Linked DNA regions of Homo sapiens. The protein of the gene in region 3 interacts with the protein of the main gene of each other region in a pairwise test. Each region holds a gene or a part of one and is shown on either strand. Other genes may lie near its edges.

Region 1 (7,035 bases), on a different chromosome or scaffold from region 3:
CTCCTGGAAGCTTTGCCCCACACACTCCCCACACCCAAGCAGGATAAGTGCTCGTCTGGGAAGCACTGAGTATTTCTCCCAGTAATACGTATCACATAGTACCGTCATTCATTCCTTAGCTGTCAGCCTTTCTCTATAGACCCAGAGCTCCGAGCAGGTAGAGGCAGTGGCCATCCTGGTCAGTGTCCACGTGTGGCATCTGGAACAGTGCCCAGCACTTGGGAAGCCAAACTGAGTGAACAGAGCTGGATAAGCCAGGAGGCCACTGCTCTCATTCAGGGGAGAGATGACTGTGTCATGGGAAAGGAATTCGAAAGATATAACAACTGAGCTTCTTAATTTCTCTCTAGTCACCATTCAAAACACTGAATGAAATGCTTTCCAAGTCAATTATGTTATGAAAATTCAACAGTAAATCTGATCTGTTGAGTGATGTCCACAAAAGCTCACATCCCTGTGGAAAGTCAGAAAGGATCATGGTTTGAGCCCTTTTACAAGCAAAAATTAGGCATAATTCTAGGCCACATAGAAACTGCCACCTCATTGGGATAACAAGTTTACCTTCTTTTGTTTTCAGAATAATTCTGCAAAGCCTCAAAGCAGAGGATGGAAACATTTCAAATCCTGCTGACATAGTCTGCATCTTTGCTTTGATTTTTAAATATGATTCCAAGCAGGCAGATAATGTTGTGACCCAATTACGGGGTATTTTGGAAGTAGTAGGCACCCAACTTGGGAGTGGAGCTGGTGGGTGTAAAGGGAAGAGTTACTAAGCAAGCACTACCACCTGCCTCTCAATCCTTCACGGGATTTTACAGAGAAGGGAGCTATGGCAATCAGGAAGTAATGCAACATCTCCCCTGACCCGCTTCCCATTTTCTCACCATTCCCAAAATAGACAGAGCTAAGGAAAATCATAAATATAATTCTCAGCCCTCTAGGGAAAAGCTCATTAAGGGCATAAATTTGGGTCCCTGGGAAAAAAGGGATGAAAGGCAAAGCTATTAAAAATCTCAAGAGATGAGACAATGGGAAATAAAGCCAACGGACAAAAAGGAACTAGAAAAACACAAAAACTATGGCCATTTCCTACACCAAAGCATACTTACAGGTAGGGCTACAAGCTCAACTGCCCTGGATACTCTAAACTCAAGCTCTTTAGAGTCAAAAGGTAAAGTTTTTGTTTAAAACTAAAAATAAAAATACTCGTTAAGTAAGGTCTTATCTCACATCAAGTATTGTTCTCTGCCCTTATACATTCACTGATGAAATCTTCACAACAATCATATTATATAAGCACAATTAGTATTCCTATTTGCAGATGAGCAAACTGAGCACTGTGTAATTCTGTTGTCAAAGTACAATTCTGTTGCCCTTTGTCATATGGCTATTAAATTGCAGAGCAGCACTGGGACTTGACCACTAAACCCCTGCTGCCTCCTTCTAGGGCTATCCTTGCACATGTTGTAGGATATTTAGTAGCATTCTTAGCCTCTTCCTACTAGATGCCAGTAGTTATCCCTCCACAGTCACCATGACCAAAATGTCACTGCCAAATGTTCCCCAGTGAGCAAAACTGTCCTGCTTAAGAACTACTGCCACAGAGATTTGAAAGGCCAAATCCCGAGTTCCCTTACAAAAGGAGTAGCAAATCCTGGGTGGTAGGCAGGAATAAAATTGAGTTAAGGAAAGATGACAAAGGAAGCAGCTGAAGGGTTTGCTGTAGTGGGAATTTTACATGAGGAGTCACTAGCCACAGCTCTTGCCACTCTCGCAGGATTAGGACAGCCTTCCTTCCCCTCCACTCCCATCACACACATGCCTCTACTGCAGCACCCTATAACCAATGTTCTGGTACATTCCTCTCTGTCCTCCTGAACTTAGCACAGTGCCAGGCACAAACTATGTACTCAATAAGCATTTGCTGAACAAAGGAAGGAACAAATGAAGCCGAGGTTTCTGGATGTCACCAAATGAATGTCTCTCTTCACCAGTGTCCTGGAAAAGGTATACACAGACCTTGGTTCTTGGAGAGGACAAGAGGTTCTGATCAGATAATCTGAAGAATCTGAGTCTGAATCAATGCTTCCCAAGGTGTCTCTACACCCAAATCATGCCTCTGCTGTGTTCAAAATTTGCAATGTGGTATATGATCATTTCTTGAAATGTCAAGGAAATTTTAACGGTATTAGTTCCCCCAGGAATGAAACAACTCAAGAAACCTAACTCATGCTAAGGAAATTCTGATTTATTCACTTCCACTGACAAACAATACCACCTAGCAAATTGTGATACTCAATGTGGCAGGTCGACTCTTGCCCAGGACAGAAGTCTACCTGAGAAACAGAAGGAAGATCAGAAGGTAAGAACAGAGCCAGCACCAAAGAGCAAGCAGGATGCTGCCAGGGAGAGGACCCATACCTGTAATCCCAGCACTTTGAGAGGCTGAGGCGGGCAGATCACTTGAGGTCAGGAGTTCGAGACCTGCTTGGCCAAAGTGGTGAAACCCCAGCCTCTACTAAAAATACAAAAATTAGCCGGATACAGTGGCGGGCACCTGTAGTTCCAACTACTTGGGTAGCTGAGGCAGGAAAACTGCTTGAACCTGGAAGGTGGAGGTTGCAGTGAGCCGAGATTAAGCCACTGCATTCCAGCCTGGGCGACCAAGTGAGACTCCGTCTCAAAAAAAAAAAAAAAAAAAAAAAAAAAGGAAATAATTTGTTGTTATTGTTTTGACACTCCTTCTTCACCCCACAATAGCAACCAAAACTAAAGGTGAATAACAGCAATTCCATGAGCAAATCATTCTGAAGCTTCCTCCAGCAATTCAAGGCTCACCCTGGAGGGAATGATACTGCAGAGGTCTGGGCCAAGCTGGCTATTACACAATTCTAGGTTCTATGGCTTTCACCCATCACCATTTCCTAGAATCACTAACTAAGAATTGCTAAAGAGTGTTGTTTTGCCAGAAAGAGGCCTGCATGCAAAGAATCAAATGTCAAGATACATCTTGAGGTTCACCTGCTGAAATTCACACTTCAACCACTTGCCCATTCTGTTCCCTTACACCCTCATCTTTCATCTTGGTGCTTTCCTTGTCATTCTCAAGCTATAATTCAAAAATAGTCACTGGCTCCTAGGGCACTTTCAAAATTAGCTCATTCACAGTTCCTAGGACCTTGGGTGACTCTATATTCCTGGAAAGCCCAGGGGCCCCATCAGCTGACCCACAAACTCCACATGTTGGCCTGGCCTCCATGACTCAACTCAATCCCAAGGGCAGGCCTCCCTGCATCTCAGGCCCAGATTCCCAGACTTACCAATTTCATGGACCATTCAGCGGCTAGATAAAAATATTCCTATCAAATCATAAAAGAATCTTACCCAAAAATGAGAAAGGCATAGTATCAGAGAAAAGGACATATCTTCTTATTTGAACAATTATGACATATTCACTACATCATTATCATCATTGTGATAAGAACAGTGAAAACCACTAACCAACAATAAATGACCTGTGGGGCTAACATTATGCTCTGCATATAGGAGATACTCATTTACTTTTATATTGTGTGGAAACTGAGCTCTGACTTACACGACAGGGACACATCCCATACCTCCAGTAATGCCAGGCCTTCCTTCTTCAACAATGGCATTTCCCTTTACCCTCTGGAATTCCGCAAAGTCTCTCCAATCTATCTCACCCTCTTAAACACACGTTTTTCCTTCTACCTCGATTCCAATATTCTGCATTCTTTTTTTTGAGACAGAGTCTCGCCCTTTCACCCAGGCTGGAGTGCAGTGGCGCGGTCTCAGCTCACAGCAACCTCCACCTCCTGGGTTCAAGCGATTCTCCTGCCTCAGCCTCCTGAGTAGCTGAAATTACAGGCGTGTGCCACCATGCCCGGCTAATTTTTGTATTTTTAGCAGAGACGGGGTTTCACCATGTTGGCCAGGCTGGTCTCAAACTCCCGACCTCAAGTGAGCCACCTGCCTTGGCCTCCGAAAGTGCTAGGATTACAGGCATGAGCCACTGCTCCCGGTTTCTGCATTCTTTTTCATCAACTTAAAAAAAACGACACTCTTCCTCCCACTCTAAGCATTCCTGAAGCATACTTGCCAATGAGTTACACTTCGGGAACTTCAGTTATTACCTAGCAAACAAAGTTTGCAAGATTTCCACAAGAGGAAAAGAGAGGGTAGAACTGGTAAACTTTGTTTATAACCACTGTCAAGTCATTAACCAACAACAAAGAAAAGCTTTAATCCATCCTTTTCTATACCATTCATTTCTTTCCATGTTCTCTTCTCGTATTTGTCCATGTGAATCTGTACATTTTATATATCAATAAATTATATATTGGGATTTTTCTCTGATTATAAAATAAATATACGTCCATTACAGAAAACAAGATAAGATTCAAACACCATGGAAATAAATTATATAGAAAGGGAATATCTCCTGTAACTCTACACACAAAGAGCTCTAATACCTTTAAACTGATCAAGCTTCTTACTTCCTGCCCAGTTGTGTGACTTGACCTTCCACCCTCTATGCCCTTCCTCTCTCCCAGCTCTCATCTAATGTCTGGAGTTAATGACCCACTCCTAACAGGGGTCCAGGAACCCTGGAGCCTGGTTATTAGAGGAACTAGAGTCACTCTCCCTTTATTAAAAATTATTTCAATGGGATAACAACTCCTCACTGACTCACTTAAAGGTTAATGAGGCTGAGTTTTGTGAGCCTCTTGAAAGCAAAATGCACTAAAAACACCAAATGGGATTGGTTTCCTTTGCTCTCTGCCCCATCGCAGCTTGCCAAGAAAAAAGAAAAAAAAGCTCATGATCCTGCTAATGACACTGAGTAGACACATTTCACCAGCCACCACTCCTGCTACTGCAGCAGCCAATCACAGGCATCTGTCCAACACAGTGACAGGGCTAACGTCAAATGAGAGTGAAAGTCGTATTCCAGAGACCAAGGGCTGCATTTCTCATCGAGGCGAGGAGACAAAGGCTGGGACACAGGAAAGGCTTGCCAAAATTTCACAAGGGTGGGCCTGGGAAGCAAAGCACAGGACCCCCTCCCCTGCAGCCTAGGTAGAGGTTTCTTTCTCAGACTATCTGTGTGCTCAAGAGCAGAAAGTCTCCCCGCAGAAAATGCTATGAAGTAGTTTCAAATGTCGAATACACTTTACCCAAATCTAATCATTACCTTATCTGCTAACTAGACTGGCAGGGCCATAAAGTTAATTTTATGACAACCATTTTATAACAAATGAAAACTATAAGGGAAGTAGGAATTGGGCAAAAAAAGAAGGGCATTGGACAAAGCAGTGACAAACCAGACAGGGAAACACAAAATCACCTCCAAATAATGCTCTAAACCAGTGGTCTCCAGACAGCGTTCATGGAAGACAATTTTTCCACGGATGGGGTTGGGGATTGGGATGAAACTGTTCCAACTCAGATCAACAAGCAGTAGATTCTCATAGGGAGTGCACAACCAAGATCCCACACATGTGCAGTTCACAACAGGGTTCACAGTCCTGTGAGAATCAAATGCCACCACTGATCTGACAGAGGTGGAGCTCAGGTGGTAAAGGTCACTTGCCCGCCGCTCACCTCCTGCTCTATGGCCCGGTTCCTAATAGGCCACTGACCAGTTCAGGTCCGAAGCAGGGGGCTGGGGACCCCTGCTCTTAAACGAAGACCTCTCTCCTCGAATGGCTGCATCACAGATCTCTAGACTGGGACAAGAAGGACCCGATAGACAACCAGAGGGTGACTGCAGCTCTCTCATTTTACAGATGGGAAAACAGGCCCAGAGACATAACTGACTTTTTCCAGGTAACACAGTGAATTGAAGTAAGGGACAAGCCAGCCCCAAAGGCAAGTCTTTGGGGTCCCTGGTTAGTAGTCTTTCCTCCAAATCCCCCCAGACCCTTTATTATGGAGAGTCTGTTACTCTGCCTCTGACAAACCATTTCGGCTGAGAGAAATGCCGTCAACACATATCAGCATGCAGAATATGCACTAATAACACATTAAAATCAAAATGGCTAATCTGGGTTTATCTTCTGACATCTAATTTCATTTGTTGGTAGTGCAACATTATTGAAAATAAATGAACACAAAACAGTTTTAAAATCTGGATAGAACCTTCTTGAAAACATTCAAATCATTCTGAAGATATGCAGTTCCAATCAAATTTAATTCTAAATAACAAATCAAAGATGCTTTAAAAGAGAATGCTTACTGAATAATAATGGAATCAATTAAAGATATTTTCATATAAGATAAAAGTTTAAAGCTCTATTGCTGTGAAATCACGAGCATCTACCTTTTCAGAGGGGTTTTCTTAGACAGCTGACATTTATGCATAGATGCTTACAGCATAAGATGATATATACAAAACCTTAATAGGATAATAGGACACATAAAAAGCACTGAACAGACCAGGCGTGATGGCTCACGCCTGTAATCCCAGCACTTTGGGAGACCGAGACTGGTGGACCTCCTGAGGTCAGGACTTGGAGACCAGCCTGGCCAACATGGTGAAACCCCATTTCTACTAAAATTACAAAAATTAGCCAGGCGTGGTGGCGGGCACCTGGAATCCCAGCTACTCAGGAGGCTGAGGCAGGAGAATTACTTGAACCTGGGAGGTGGAGGTTACAGTGAGCCAAGATCGCGCCACTACACTCCAGCCTGGGTGACAGACTGAAACTCTGTCTCAAAAATAATAATAATAATAATAATACTAGGCACTGAACAAATGCTGGTTTCCTAACCCCATGTAGGAAAATAAGTATTCCCCCCATAACCAGTAATAACTTATTACAATATTTTCCTAAAAGTCTGTCCCACCTGCTCCCCTCCCCCGCCCCCGGAAAACTTAAGGTGTTATATCACAAGGGTATTGTCCAGTTTTGTTTTGTTATTTATTTACTTATTTATTTATTTTATTTATGTATTTATTTTGAGACGGAGTCTCACCCTTTTGCCCAGGCTGGAGTGCAGTGGCGCGATCTT
Region 2 (7,035 bases), on a different chromosome or scaffold from region 3:
CTGGAGTCCCCTCCTGCATTTCAGGACATCCCTATGCCCATTTAGCTCTGTGTGAAGTGCTTTCTCTGGTGTAGTTTCCCTTCCACTAGATGGAGCTGTCAAAGTCCAAAGCAGTGTCTAGGCATGACAAATAGCTCAAGAATACCCAAGTATTTTATTGTTGATTTTGGAACTGGGACTAAAGGCAGATGATTTTATAAGTAATCTCTTTAAGAGTCATTTACTTCCATCTAATAAAAACAAATAGACAACTTTATACTGCATGGCTTATTATACTTGGAGGATAGAATCTATAATTTAAAACAGAATTTAGATTGAACCAGCATGTATTATTTTTGGATGAACCAATATGACAACCTAAATGGATGGAGGCAGATCAGAAATAGTATACAAAACATACACAGCAGTAGTAATTAAAGACACCGAATTCAAAAAGTAAACCATGACTTAACAACATGCAAATTGAGCAATATTTTGAGATAACACCTGCTATTCTTACTCCATTACTTTCCTTGTTGTATTCTTTCCTGCTAGCTGAGTTTGTCTTAGCCTTTGCCTAGCCACTTGAATGTGTCATCCATCCGTTTGGCAGGTGTTTGAGGCTCATTTGCTCAGCTAAAACCAGATACACTTCTGAGTGCTAAAACCCCAACATCAAACCAACTGCCCTTACAACTCGAGTAAATTGTGTTAATATCAAATCCTAGAATCATATCTGCAATAAAATGTGGAAAAACATCAGGTAAACTGCTGAATGCCCCCTTCCATATTTTTAGTTGCTCACACCAAAAGAAAGAAGCTAATTATAAGATATGAACCACACCATTGCAGTCAGCACCCAATCACCAAGACACAAATGTAACGAGAAAGGAAAATAGGATAGTCTACCATCTTTCAGTCTGATCTTCATTTGAAAGCATTTGTATCTAATAATTCTTTGTATAAAAGTAACTCTAAAGCAGTTTTACAGGGACATTCTCCTGCAACTGGTATGGTGTGGTCAGATACAAAGAAGTCAGTCTACCTATCTGAGGTGCCTCCTTTCAAGTGTAGGTCAGTCCTGGCACTAAGGAATAATGGAACCTCTGTCTGTCCTATTGGTCAGATAAGGAATGCTAAAAGTCAGTTGCTTTCTTTTGGTATAAGACATAATGATTCAAACAGCTATTGCTACTTGCATCTTGGCTAACTGGTAAGTTCCCAGGCAAGCAGGGAACAGGAAAAAAAGAGAGAAAACTCAATTTGGTAAATTTGCTATAACTTAGCAACTAGAATAAGTCCATGTTTATGTTTTTATTATTCATATCTACCCTGCTTCCACATTAGTTTGTATCAAGAGATAGTGATATTAACACATAGGCTATGGGTAAGAACTACCCTCTCAAAATTGTTAGGACAAAGAACCAGTATATTATAAACATTTGCATTTACAAGGTGATATGCAGTTGTGTCACCTTGTAACCTAACTTCATGCCTACAAGTTTTGTTTTTAACTTGGAGCCACAACTTTTTCCATTAGTAAATTGACAGAATGTAATTATCCTGACAAACCCATCTTACTTTTTTTTTTTTTTTTTGGAGACAGTCTCACTCTGTTGCCCAGCCTGGAGTGCAGTGGCGTGACCTCGGCTCACTGCAACTTTCATTTCCCAGGTTCAAGCAGTTCTCTTGTCTTGGCCTCCCAAGTAGCTGAGATTACAGGCGCATGCCCCCACGCCTGGCTAATTTTTATTTTTAGTAGAGATGGCGTTTCACCATGTTGGCCAGGCTGGTCTCAAACTCCTGACTTCAGGTGATCTGCCTGCCTCAGCCTCCCAAAGTGCTGGGATTACACGCGTGAGCCACTGTGCTCAGCCCCATCTTAGATACTTTACAAATGATTTGTATGACTGCAAGAATGCAGGTAATCCCTGGTATCTGGGAATAATTAGAAGATGTGAATAAAGATTTTACTATACAAATATGGTAAAGAATATGAACTTAAGTAGCTGAATAACAAGAAAATTGTCTCTGGAGTTCATCCAAAAAGATAGTTTTATACCTCATTTTAGCAGTGACTTAAAGTTATACAGGCATTACCATTAAGACTGAATCTTTTAATCTTTATACTGTCACCCACAATACATATAAATTAACCACAAGCCTGCTTTTTCCAGTAACAAATAGCATATCAATAATTAAGGAACACACAAAAGCATCAAGGACCAAATGACTACTAAAGAATTTCCAACTTACTCAGAATACCTTTTTAAAAATCCTTTTATTGTGGTGGGAAAAAGAAGAAAAAAAAAGGAGAAAAGGGTGGGGGGTTTGTGTCAGATACTTACGCTGACTTTGGGCTGAGAAGGCAAAGTCCCACTTGCCTTCATTGTGCTCACTAGCTTGTTGAACGCAGTCATGTCTCCGTCTTTCTTCAGTTGTCGATTGTTGGTTACGGCACTCAAGGTCTCTTCTAGGTGTTCTGCCATGAAGGGAGTTGAATTCTTCACTTGCTGGTCAACCTTCAAGCCCTTCAGACCTGCTTCTACCTCCTCCACTGAAAGCACAACCCCTGAATGTGCTGAGAAGTTGAGAACGTCCAGGTTAAATCAAGCAAAGAGATATCTGGTAGGAATTCTCTTTGGCTAGTATGACAGATAAGATGAAAATAATTTATTTCAAAATTGAGATGAGACTGTCAGAAAAGACTGACACCAAAAATAAACTAATAACACTTAAAATCAAATTGTGTACTAAGAGATGGCATAAACTAAACCTAAAATGTTTAGATGCTAGAAACTGGGGGACCACAACTATGAAGTGCTATTCTTTAAAACTTGACAAGCTCCTGCTGTGCATCCTGCAGAAGGATATGAGTCTTCTGGGAGACTTGTTACCTGGGACAAGAATCCCAGATAGCCCAACATTGCCAAGATTGCTGCCTGCACCGTGGTCATTATATCACTAAGTTTTTATGTTGAGAATTTATAGCCTAAGCAAGAACATGGAAGACTAGGGCAGATTTGTGAGGAAATGGTAAGTTATGCTCTGGAGGAATAAAACATTCACTGGAGTTTGTTTTCAACATTCACTGGATTATTACAACCAGACCCTAGGTAAGAACTTACAGGAAAAGTTCTCATAGGGCTCATGACCCACTGTGAGATTCTCAAAGAGGTGGTATTGTTTGATGAAATGAGTTTTTAAAAAAGAACATTAAACAAAAACCCAATATATATTTGACTTTTTATGAAACAGAGGTTATGTTAGACCCAACTGCCTGAAGACTGAACATCTAGACCTTTTCAGATATCTAAAACAGATATTCATAAACACTTACAGCTTTCTTTAAGTTTTTCTTTATTTGCAGAAAGGCTGGAAAGAAGAGGTTTCAAATCCACTTTGGCTTTCTGTAGCATTTCTAAAATATCCACTTTATTTTCAGCATGGTCTTCCAATGGTATAGGAGCAAAGTAATTCCCCGAGTTCTGTCCAGGAGAGAGGATGGCTTGCTCCAGACCTGATATTGCAAATAAACATACTCAAAATTAATCTGTTCCAGTAAAGAAACATGCCTTCGACAGTATTTTTCTTTCTTTCTTTTTTTTTTTTTTTTTCTTTGAGATGGAGTTTCGCTTTTTCGCCCAGGCTGGAGTGCAGTGGCGCAATCTCGGCTCACTGCAACCTCCGCCTGCCAGTTTCAAGCGATTCTCCTGCCTCAGCCTCCTGAGTAGCTGGGACTACAGATGCCCGCCACCACGCCTGGCTGATTTTTGTATTTTTAGTAGAGATGGGGGTTTCACCATGTTGGCCAGGCTGGTCTCAAACTCCTAACCTTGTGATCTGCCTGCCTTGGCCTCCCAAAGTGCTGGGATTACAGGCGTGAGCCACTGCACCCGGCCCCTTCAACAATATTAAAAGGACACAAATTGAAGGCTTTTCAGTTGTCCAGAGACCCTTTGACCCTAATTGACTCCTGACTAATGAAGATAAAATGAACCATATCAGGGAAAAACCCAGGTTTACCTTCAAGGGCAGAATCTGAAGCCATTTTACCTGCAAGTCTCTCTAGCTCTTCATGTGGTGTTGACCCAAGACTGCTGGATCGGCTTCCTGATCTGCTCGGGTTAGAGAACCACCTACTGAACCGACTGGCAGAGACTGACCCTTCTCCCAAAACATCTTCTATCATCTGAAGAAAAAGACAATAAAAACTAATAGTTTCTAGATGAAAAAGGACAAGAAGGTTTAAATCTTATGAAAGGGTCACTTACTTTGAAACTTCCTTTCATGCTCGTGACCTGAAGATAAATACTCTCAGAACCTAGGAATTTGAACACCTTTTTCTTCCTCCATCCTGGGTAATTTCTGAATAACCCAAACTTGAGTATAACCATCTACTTACTTTCCTTTTTTATTTTTTATTACTTTTTTTTTTTTTTTTTTGAGACAGAGTCTCGCTCTGTCACCCAGGCTGGAGTGCAGTGGCACGATCTCGGCTCACTGCAAGCTCCGCCTCCCGGGTTCACACCATTCTCCTGCCTCAGCCTCCTGAGTAGCTGGGACTACAGGCGCCTGCCACCACGCCCGGCTAATTTTTTGTATTTTTAGTAGAGACGGGGTTTTACCGTGTTAGCCAGGATGGTCTCGATCTCCTGACCTTGTGATCCGCCCGCCTTGGCCTCCCAAAGTGCTGGGATTACAAGCATGAGCCACCACACCCGGTCTACTATTTTTTTAAGACAGTCTCGCTCTGTTGCCCAGGCTGAAGTGCAGGGGTGCAATCTTGGCTCACTGCAACCTCTGCCTCCCAGGTTCAAGTGATTCTTATGCCTCAGGCTCTCGAGTAGCTGGGACTACAGGCATACGCCACCATATGCCTGGCTATTTTTAATTTTATTTTTAGTAGAGATGGGTTTTTACCATGTTGGCCAGGCTTGTCTCGAACTTCTGACCTCAAATGATCCACCTGCCTTGGCCTCCCAAAGTGCTGGGATTACAGGCATGAACCACCACTACTTTCTAAGAATATAAAGCAAAGCCTCTATGCTACAAAAAGGTTTTTGGGTTTCTATCCTTTGCCTCAGGAGTAAATCCACGTACTACCAAATGTTCTCAGAGAACAGTGTCAATGCCACAGCATTCCACTGACAAGCTGATGAGTGACCTTCAACTAAATATCAAGTATGGGGAACTGATGAAAGAAAACCATTGCTTCAAACTTAGTGGTTTCAAGGTTGTAATGAACATTATGAAATTCAATCTTGAGAGTTTCAGAAGCCAAAGGCTAAAAAAGCAGAGCTCATAAAGACTGTAATTCCAAGTCAAAGTTTAGAAAAAGTATGATTGTGGAAGATGAAATTTCAACTGATCTCTAATTTCTGTTTGAGATTAATAGAGAGTTTTCAGGTGTTTTCTGTTTCCAAATCCAACCTCCATAGTTTACATTTAATAAGGACAATTAAATAACACACTATGAACAATAAATTGCTTTGGTAGAAATTATGAAATAGTGCCAATCTTTCTTAAAAACTAGATTTAAGCATTTAAAAAATTTTTCAATTCAAATCATACCATAAATTCAGTCAAATATCCAAATTGATTTTTTGCAGTATTCTTATCAATATTTAGAAAAGACAAGATAGAGCAAACATCTATCCAAAAATCAGACATATCCTTGAAAATAAGTCATATACTTTCACGTCAATCCCACTGATAAACAGAAAACATGCTTTTTCAAAAACTGGTACATGGATGACAGAATTAGTGACTGTTTTATTTGAAATCTGGAACCCACAGTTTCCAAAGTTAAGCAGGGGAAGCTTAGATTTATTCTTTGTTCTTATCTGGAAGAATGTTTTCATAATCCATACCCAAATTAAGCCACAATATACTTCTTTTGAAGGGATTTTAATTCAAGACCCTAATTATTGTTTCCAGAATTTCTATTTTCAGAGGAATTATCTAGACAATTTCAATCACATTCCACCTGTAGATGCTCATACCTTAAATAATGCTGACTTTTAAGTGCACTAATTTTGTATTAATTAAAATATAAGATAAGCATGATACATCACTGTGAAAAATTGGGGAGTGTATCCAAAATATAAGCATCTTAGTGATAAACAGGAATTCTAAAAATAACTTTAAAAAGCCAGGTGCGGTGGCTCACGCCTGTAATCCCAGCACTTTGGGAGACCAAGACAGGAGGATCACAAGGTCAGGAGTTCAAGACCCGTCTGGCCAACATAGTGAAACCCCATCTCTACTAAAAATACAAAAATTAGCTGGGCATGGTGGCACACACCTGTGATCCCAACTACTCAGGAGGCTGAGGCAGAAGAATCGCTTGAACCCAGGAGACGGAGGTTGCAATGAGCCAAGATCGTGCCACTGCACTTCAGCCTGGGTGACAGAGTAAGATTCCAACTCAAAAAAAAAAAAACAACAAAAAAAGAATTTTTAGTCTAACACCACCAGCTTAAAAAAGAGTTAACTGGTACAAAAATCTCATATTATCCATTAAGCCTCTCAAAACAAAGCCAACAAAAATTTAAATATGTAAGAATAAAAGCCAAAAACCCCAAAAGCATCTAGCAAAACAACACTTTCAAACCGATGTCTTAAATACTCAGGTCAAATTTAACCACACATTTTTTAAGTGTGCTGCTACACTCACCGAAGCCAAGCATGGCACCTTATCAAGGTTAAAGAACTCATTAAAGTCAAAGTCTCCTGGGGACTGCTCAGGCAAGACAGCATCCCTTGGCACTTCCTGATCAGCCGCAGGCTCCTGTGCAAGGATGACCTCCACTTCATCCTCTTCGGCCACTCCTCCATTGCACTCTACTATACCTGAAAGCAAAACCAGGACAAAAACCGTCTGATAAGTAAATCACTCCAGTGTCCCTCTGTGGCTTCAGCCATCAGTATACATGTAGAAGAGCCACACATGACTTAAAAAGCAGACTTCTCGTGCAGGTACTGTACTTGCAAGAATAAAACAGTCCCCCTTCTACGGGAGGCAGAAAAGGAAAAAAGCCTTAATAAAGCTAG
Region 3 (7,035 bases):
ATCCCGAATCCAAGAGGAAAAGGCCAAAGTTTCTACTTAATCAAAAAGAATGTCCTGACCTTTTATCCAACTCATTTTAAAGATTAAGAAATTAACCAAAATCCCATAATGCTTTTCAAATTTATGTTAAAAATATGTTACTAAAAGCTTACTGCCCTAACAAAAATGCAATTATTGCTTCTCTAGAACATTTACTTTTGTACTGATTTCTAAAAAAGATGTGGGATTACTAACAGCACACATTTACAGTTTTTTTTCCCACTTTAAAGTTAATTCTAAATAGAAATTGCTTAAGAATCTAGAAATTGGTGGCGCAGTGGCTCACACCTGTAATCCCAGCACTTTAGGTGGCCAAGGCAGGAGATCAAGACCATGCTGGCTAACACGGTAAAACCCCGTCTCTACTAAAAATACAAAAAAATTAGCCAGACATGGTGGCGGGCGCCTGTAGTCCCAGCTACTCGGGAGGCTGAGGCAGGACAATGGCGTGAACCTGGGAGGCGGAGCTTGCAGTGAGCCGAGATGGTGCCACTGCACTCCAGCTCCAGCCTGGGCGAAAGAGCAAGACTCCGTCTCAAAGAAAAAAAAAAAGAATCTAAAAATTGAGGCTGGGCATGGTGATTAATGCCTGTAATCTTAACATTTTGGGAAGCCCAGGCAGGAGAATCACTTGAACCCAGGAGGTGCAGGTTGCAGTGAGCTGAGATCATGCCATTGCACTTCCAGCCTGGGTGACAGAGTGAGACTCCGTCTTTAAAAAAAGAGAATGATCAATCCATCTCAGGATCTCAGGTATATATTTTGTGTTGGAAATTTGCAATGAAGAACAAATGGTATACCTAATGCACAGTGAGCAACCCATGGTAAAGGACTGGCTGATAAGTTTTATTGTTTAGTCAACCATAACTCAGCTAAAAACATCTATCTAAGCATAAGAAATGAGAAAAAGCGGCCGGGCGCGGTGGCTCATGCCTGTAATCCCAGCACCTTAGGAGGCCAAGGCGGGCGGATCACGAGGTCAAGGAGATCGAGACCATCCTGGCTAACACAGTGAAACCCCGTCTCTACTAAAAATACAAAAAATTAGCCAAGCGTGGTGGTGGGCGCCTGTAGTTCCAGCTACTTGGGAGGCTGAGGCAGGAGAATGGTGTGAACCCAGGGGGTGAAGCTTACAGTGAACCAAGATCACGTCACTGCACTCCAGCCTGGGCGCCACAGCAAGACTCCATCTCAAAAAAAAAAAAAAAAAAAAAGACATGAGAAAAAGGAAACCTTTTAGTTTTATGAAAGGAAAATAAGCTTTTGAGTTAAGACATGCTCAAATCTCAGCTCTTCCACCTCTTTGAGCCCTAGTTTTCTTAAACTATATTAAGAACTCAGTGATATAAGCATAATGCCTACATAAACTAGGTTGTCAATGCTTGTTTTTGTTTTTTAATGGTCAAGGAAAGACTTCTAAGGATGTTTCAGTTTCTTGTAATAAGTAAAAAAGCTTAAGTTAAAAGTGCAATTTATTAGGAAAATAATGAAATAGCCAATGTAATTCATGAGAAAGGATAACCAGTAGGGTAGTTTTTCTGACACTATGAGGCTACATGATCATTATTTTTACTTTTCTCTGTGTCTGCTTCATGTTTTACTGCAGAGAAGACTTCCCTGCAGCTACATGCATCACATGGGAAATAGCTATCCCATACATAGAGCTTTCACTTCCAAACTTCAACACTAGTACTATCTACACGTAACTGGTATTTCTGGGCCCTTGTTTCAAATTCCTAAGGTAGAAAACTGGTTGGCTTAGTTTGGGTCAGGTATCCATTTTTCTTTTTTTTTTTTTTTTTGAGACAGAGTCTCGCTCTGTTGCCAGGCTGGAGTGCAGTGGCGCGATCTTGGTTCACTGCAACCTCTGACTCCCCGGTTCAAGTGATTCTCCTGCCTCAGCCTCCCAAGTAGCTAGGATTACAGGCATGCGCCACCATGCCCAGCTAATTTTTTTTGTATTTTTAGTAGAGACGGGGTTTCCCATGTTGGCCAGGATGATCTCGATCTCCTGACCTCATGATCTGCCCACCTCGGCCTCCCAAAGTACTGGGGTTACAGGCGTGAGCTACCACGCCCAGCACCGTTTTTGGTTTTTAAGAGACAGGGTCTTGCTCTGCTCCCCATGCTAGAATACAGTGACACAATCATAGCTCACTGTAACCTTGAACTCCTGGGCTGTAGCTATCCTCCCACCTTAGCCTCCAGAGTAGCTAGGACTACAGGCATACACCACCATACACAGTTAATATTTTAAATTTTTTGTAGAGACAGAGTCTTGCTATGTTGCCTAGGCTGGTCTCAAACTCCTAAGCTCAAACAATCCTCCAACTCAGCCTTCCAAAGTGCTGAGATTACAGGCATGACCCACCATGCCTGGCCAGGTATTCATTCTTGATCCAGTACCTGGGAGTGGGAATCACACATGATACAAATCACACATGATACAAATATACAAGGCCCCACCTATTAGAGGGAGAGAGAGGCTGGGCACAAACCCAAAAGGTATCTACTGCAACATTATTTTGCAAAAGCTTGCCTTCTAGAATGTTCTTTTTATCTTTTATTTATTTTTATTTTTTCTGAGACAGAGTCTAGCTCTGTCACCCAGGCTGAAGTGCAGTGGCTTGATCTTGGCTCACTGCAACCTCCGCCTCCTGGGTTCAAGCAATTCTTCTGCCTCACCTCCCGAGTAGCTGCGACCACAGGCGTGTGCCACCACACTTGGCTTATTTTCGTATTTTAAATGGAGATGGGGTTCCACCATGTTGGCCAAGCTGGTCTCGAACTCCTGACCTCAGGTGAACCCCCGACCTCAGCCTCCCAAAGTGCTGGGATTACAGGCGTGAGCCACTGCACCCGGCCCATAAGGGAGCAGTTTGAGATGGGAGGCTTCACCATGTTGCCTAGGCTGGTCTCAAACACCAAGATTCAAGTGATCCTCCTGCCTCAGCCTCCTGGGTAGCTAGAATTACAGGCACACACCACCACATCTGGCAACAAGTTTCTTTAATGAAAGAATACCCTCTGAATTTTCCCATGGTATGACTTTTAAGATATGGTATGATAAGACATGGAAGATAATCATAATGTTATAAGATTATATTTTGGTCCCACTGCTTTTTTTTTTTTTTGTCACCCAAAGTGGAATGCAGTGGTATGATCACAGCAAAATGTAACCTTGAACTCCTGGGCTCAGGTGATCCTCCCACCTCAGCCTCCCAAGTAACTGGGACTATAGGGGCACGCCGCCACATCCAGCTAATTTTTTAAAATTTTGTATAAAAAAAAAACAGGAGTCTCACTATATTGCCCATGGAGGTCTTGAACTCCTGCCCTCAAGCAGTCCTCCCACCTTGGCCTCACAAAGCATTGGCATTACAGGCGCGAGCCATCACACCTGGCCCACTGCTATCTTTTTGTCAAAGACAGTGCCTGACTTTAGCATCTTTTTGGTACAAACACTTTGTCTTTTTTCTTTTTTTTTTTTTTGAGACAGAGTCTTGTTCTGTCACCCAGGCTGGAGTGTAGTGGTGCAATCTCAGCTCACTGTGCAACCTCCACCTCTCAGGTTGAAGCAATTCTCTTGCCGCAGCCTCCCAAGTAGCTGGGATTACAGGTGTGCACTAGCATGCCCAGCTACTTTTTTTTTTTTTTCCTTTGGACAGAATCTCACTATGTCTCCCAGGCTGGAGTGCAGTGGCGTGATCTCACAGTGGCGTGATCTCAGCTCACTGCAGCCTCTGCCTCCCAGGTTCCAACAATTCTCGTGCCTCAGCCTCCTGAGTAGCTGGGATTACAGGCGTCTACCACTACACCTGGCTAATTTTTGTATTTTTCGTAGAGATGGGTTTCACCATGTTAGCCAGGCTGGTCTCAAACTCCTGACCTCGAGTGATCCACCGCCTCAGCCTCCTAAAGTGCTGGGATTACAGGCATAAGCCACTGTGCTCAGCCTACTTTGTCTTTCCTGAAAAACCTTTTAAAATTTATTTGATGGACTTTGTCTCAAAATAAATAAAATAAAATGTATTTGATGATCAATATCTAAGTCTACTCACCACACCATTTTGTCACTGGAAAGGCAGAAGTGACCTCTCAAGGCAGCCAGGGCAGCATGGGTAGAATACAGATGGAAACCAACGGGAATCCCACAAGAACCACAGAATAAAAGGTTGTAAGTACTAGGGGTGGGGAAAAACACAATATGGGTAAGAATAAAAAATCATATAAGAAATAAAAAATAACTAGTCTCTGAAGCATTCCTAACACCTAAGTCAGGGTGAAAATTACATTGTAATAGGAATGAGACGGAAAGAATGTCACATTCAAGAAAGGGTAACTCAGATTGTAATTTAATTACATGCTGGATTGCGGATACCCTCGTATATTCTGGTCAAAGCAATCATGGATGTATAATTGTCGCTTCAGAAGAGAAAGGTAATTTACCCCTAATAAACACAAAAAGAGCTAACTAATCTGATTAACATTTAAACATTTAAAACTACAAATCATGTAAAATGGCTATCATTATATAAATTCACAGTTGTTGAAAAATAATCAAGTTGACTGGGGCCTTACTAAACAAATTGTTCATAGAACTAAAATCAAGGTTTGTCTTTTGCTTATATTAAAAAAGAAAGTTAATGAAAAAAATGCGCCCTCTCCCTCTCCCTCCTCTCCCCACGGTCTCCCTCTCCCTCTCTTTCCACGGTCTCCCTCTGATGCCAAGCCAAAGCTGGACTGTACTGCTGCCATCTCGGCTCACTGCAACCTCCCTGCCTGATTCTCCTGCCTCAGCCTGCCGAGTGCCTGCGATTGCAGGCACGCGCCGCCACACTTGACAGGTTTTCATATTTTTTTGGTGGAGACGGGGTTTCGCTGTGTTGGCTGGGCTGGTCTCCAGCTCCTAACCGCGAGTGATCCACCAGCCTCGGCCTCCCAGGGTGCCGGGATTGCAGACGGAGTCTCGTCTCGTTCACTCAGTGCTCAATGGTGCCCAGGCTGGAGTGCAGTGGCATGATCTTGGCTCGCTACAACCTCCACCTCCCAGCCGCCTGCCTTGGCCTCCCAAAGTGCCGAGATTACAGCCTCTGCCCAGCCGCCACCCCGTCTGGGAAGTGAGGAGCGTCTCTGCCTGGCCACCCATCGTCTGGGATGTGAGGAGCCCCTCTGCCTGGCTGCCCAGTCTGGAAAGTGAGGAGCGTCTCTGCCCGCCCGCCATCCCATCTAGGAAGTGAGGAGCGCCTCTTCCCGGCCGCCATCCCATCTAGGAAGTGAGGAGCGTCTCTGCCCGGCCTCCCATGGTCTGAGATGTGGGGAACGCCTCTGCCCTGCCGCCCCGTCTGGGATGTGAGGAGCGCCTCTGCCCGGCCGCGACCCTGCCTGGGAGGTGAGGAGCGTCTCTGCCCGGCTGCCCCATCTTGAGAAGTGAGGAGACCCTCCGCCCGGCAGCCTCCCTGTCTGAGAAGTGAGGAGCCCCTCCGCCCGGCAGCCACCCCATCTGGGAAGTGAGGAGCGTCTCCGCCCGGCAGCCACCCTGTCGGGGAGGGAGGTGGGGGGTCAGCCCCCCGCCCAGCCAGCCGCCCCGTCCAGGAGGGAGGTGGGGGGGTCAGCCCCCCGCCCGGCCAGCCGCCCCGTCCGGGAGGGAGGTGGGGTGGTCCAGCCCCCCGCCCGGCCAGCCGTCCCGTCCTGGAGGGAGGTGGGGGGGTCAGCCCCCCGCCCGGCCAGCCGCCCCGTCCGCGAGGTGATGGGCGCCTCTGCCCGGCCGCCCCTACTGGGAAGTGAGGAGCCCCTCTGCCCGGCCACCACCCTGTCTGGGAGGTGTACCCAACAGCTCATTGAGAATGGGCCATGATGACAATGGCAGTTTTGTGGAATAGAAAAGGGGGAAAGGTGGGGAAAAGATTGAGAAATCGGATGGCTGCTGTGTCTGTGTAGAAAGAAGTAGACATGGGAGACTTTTCATTTTGTTCTGTACTAAGAAAAATTCTTCTGCCTTGGGATCCTGTTGATCTATGACCTTACCCCCAATCCTGTGCTCTCTGAAACATGTGCTGTGTCCACTCAGGGTTAAATGGATTAAGGGCGGTGCAAGATGTGCTTTGTTAAACAGATGCTTGAAGGCAGCATGCTCCTTAAGAGTCATCACCACTCCCTAATCTCAAGTACCCAGGGACACAAACACTGCGGAAGGCCGCAGGGTCCTCTGCCTAGGAAAACCAGAGACCTTTGTTCACTTGTTTATCTGCTGACCTTCCCTCCACTATTGTCCTATGACCCTGCCAAATCCCCCTCTGCGAGAAACACCCAAGAATGATCAATAAAAAAATAAATAAATAAATAAATAAATAAAAAAGAAAAAAATGCGCAGACTAAAAGAGAAAGAAAAGGGAATCCTATTACCCTAGCAAGCCATCTATTTTGTTTTCCTTATCCTCTGAAAAGATTACTGATGAAGAGTCAGATGTTGATTTTAGCTCTCATTACAATTCTTGAGCAAGTCATCATATTTGCTGGTATATAAGACATATTTAAATATTAGAAAGAAACATTTTGGTCAGGCACAGTGGTTCACACCTACTGTAATCCCAGCACTATGAGAGGCCAAAGTGGGCAGATAGCTTGAGCCCAGGAATTCGAGAGCAGCCTAGGCAACATGGTAATACCCCGTCTTAAAAAATAAATAAATGTTTTACAAGAAAAGCACTTTAAGAAAATATTTCATCATGCATGTGCTAAAAGCAATTTTAAAGTGGTTTGGTAAAGGAAAAATAAATTGTATTAATATATAGTATGAAGTTTTTTTTGGTTTTTTTTTGAGACAAGTTCTTGCTCTGTCGCCCAGGTTAGAACGTAGTGATACAATCATAGCTCACTGCAGCCTTGAATTCCTGGGCTCAACTGATCTACCTGCCTCAGCTTCCCAAAGCTGGGACTACAGGTGCATGCTACCATGCCCTACTAATTTTTTTTTTGGCAGAAATGGGGTCTTAC

The links.
Region 1: the proteins of OIP5 (region 3) and APBB2 interact in binary tests that used the Homo sapiens proteins (3 or more experiments, as listed by UniProt).
Region 2: the proteins of OIP5 (region 3) and EIF4ENIF1 interact in binary tests that used the Homo sapiens proteins (3 or more experiments, as listed by UniProt).

Annotation. Positions count from the first base shown.
Region 1 is NC_000004.12:41,204,517-41,211,551, forward strand, and holds part of APBB2 (amyloid beta precursor protein binding family B member 2), read right to left. Parts: intron 1-7,035. UniProt on the Homo sapiens protein: Plays a role in the maintenance of lens transparency, and may also play a role in muscle cell strength. Involved in hippocampal neurite branching and neuromuscular junction formation, as a result plays a role in spatial memory functioning.
Region 2 is NC_000022.11:31,451,817-31,458,851, forward strand, and holds part of EIF4ENIF1 (eukaryotic translation initiation factor 4E transporter), read right to left. Parts: intron 6,835-7,035; coding exon 6,659-6,834; intron 4,172-6,658; coding exon 4,036-4,171; intron 3,500-4,035; coding exon 3,320-3,499; intron 2,561-3,319; coding exon 2,328-2,560; intron 1-2,327. UniProt on the Homo sapiens protein: EIF4E-binding protein that regulates translation and stability of mRNAs in processing bodies (P-bodies). Plays a key role in P-bodies to coordinate the storage of translationally inactive mRNAs in the cytoplasm and prevent their degradation.
Region 3 is NC_000015.10:41,315,558-41,322,592, forward strand, and holds part of OIP5 (protein Mis18-beta), read right to left. Parts: intron 4,224-7,035; coding exon 4,101-4,223; intron 1-4,100. UniProt on the Homo sapiens protein: Required for recruitment of CENPA to centromeres and normal chromosome segregation during mitosis.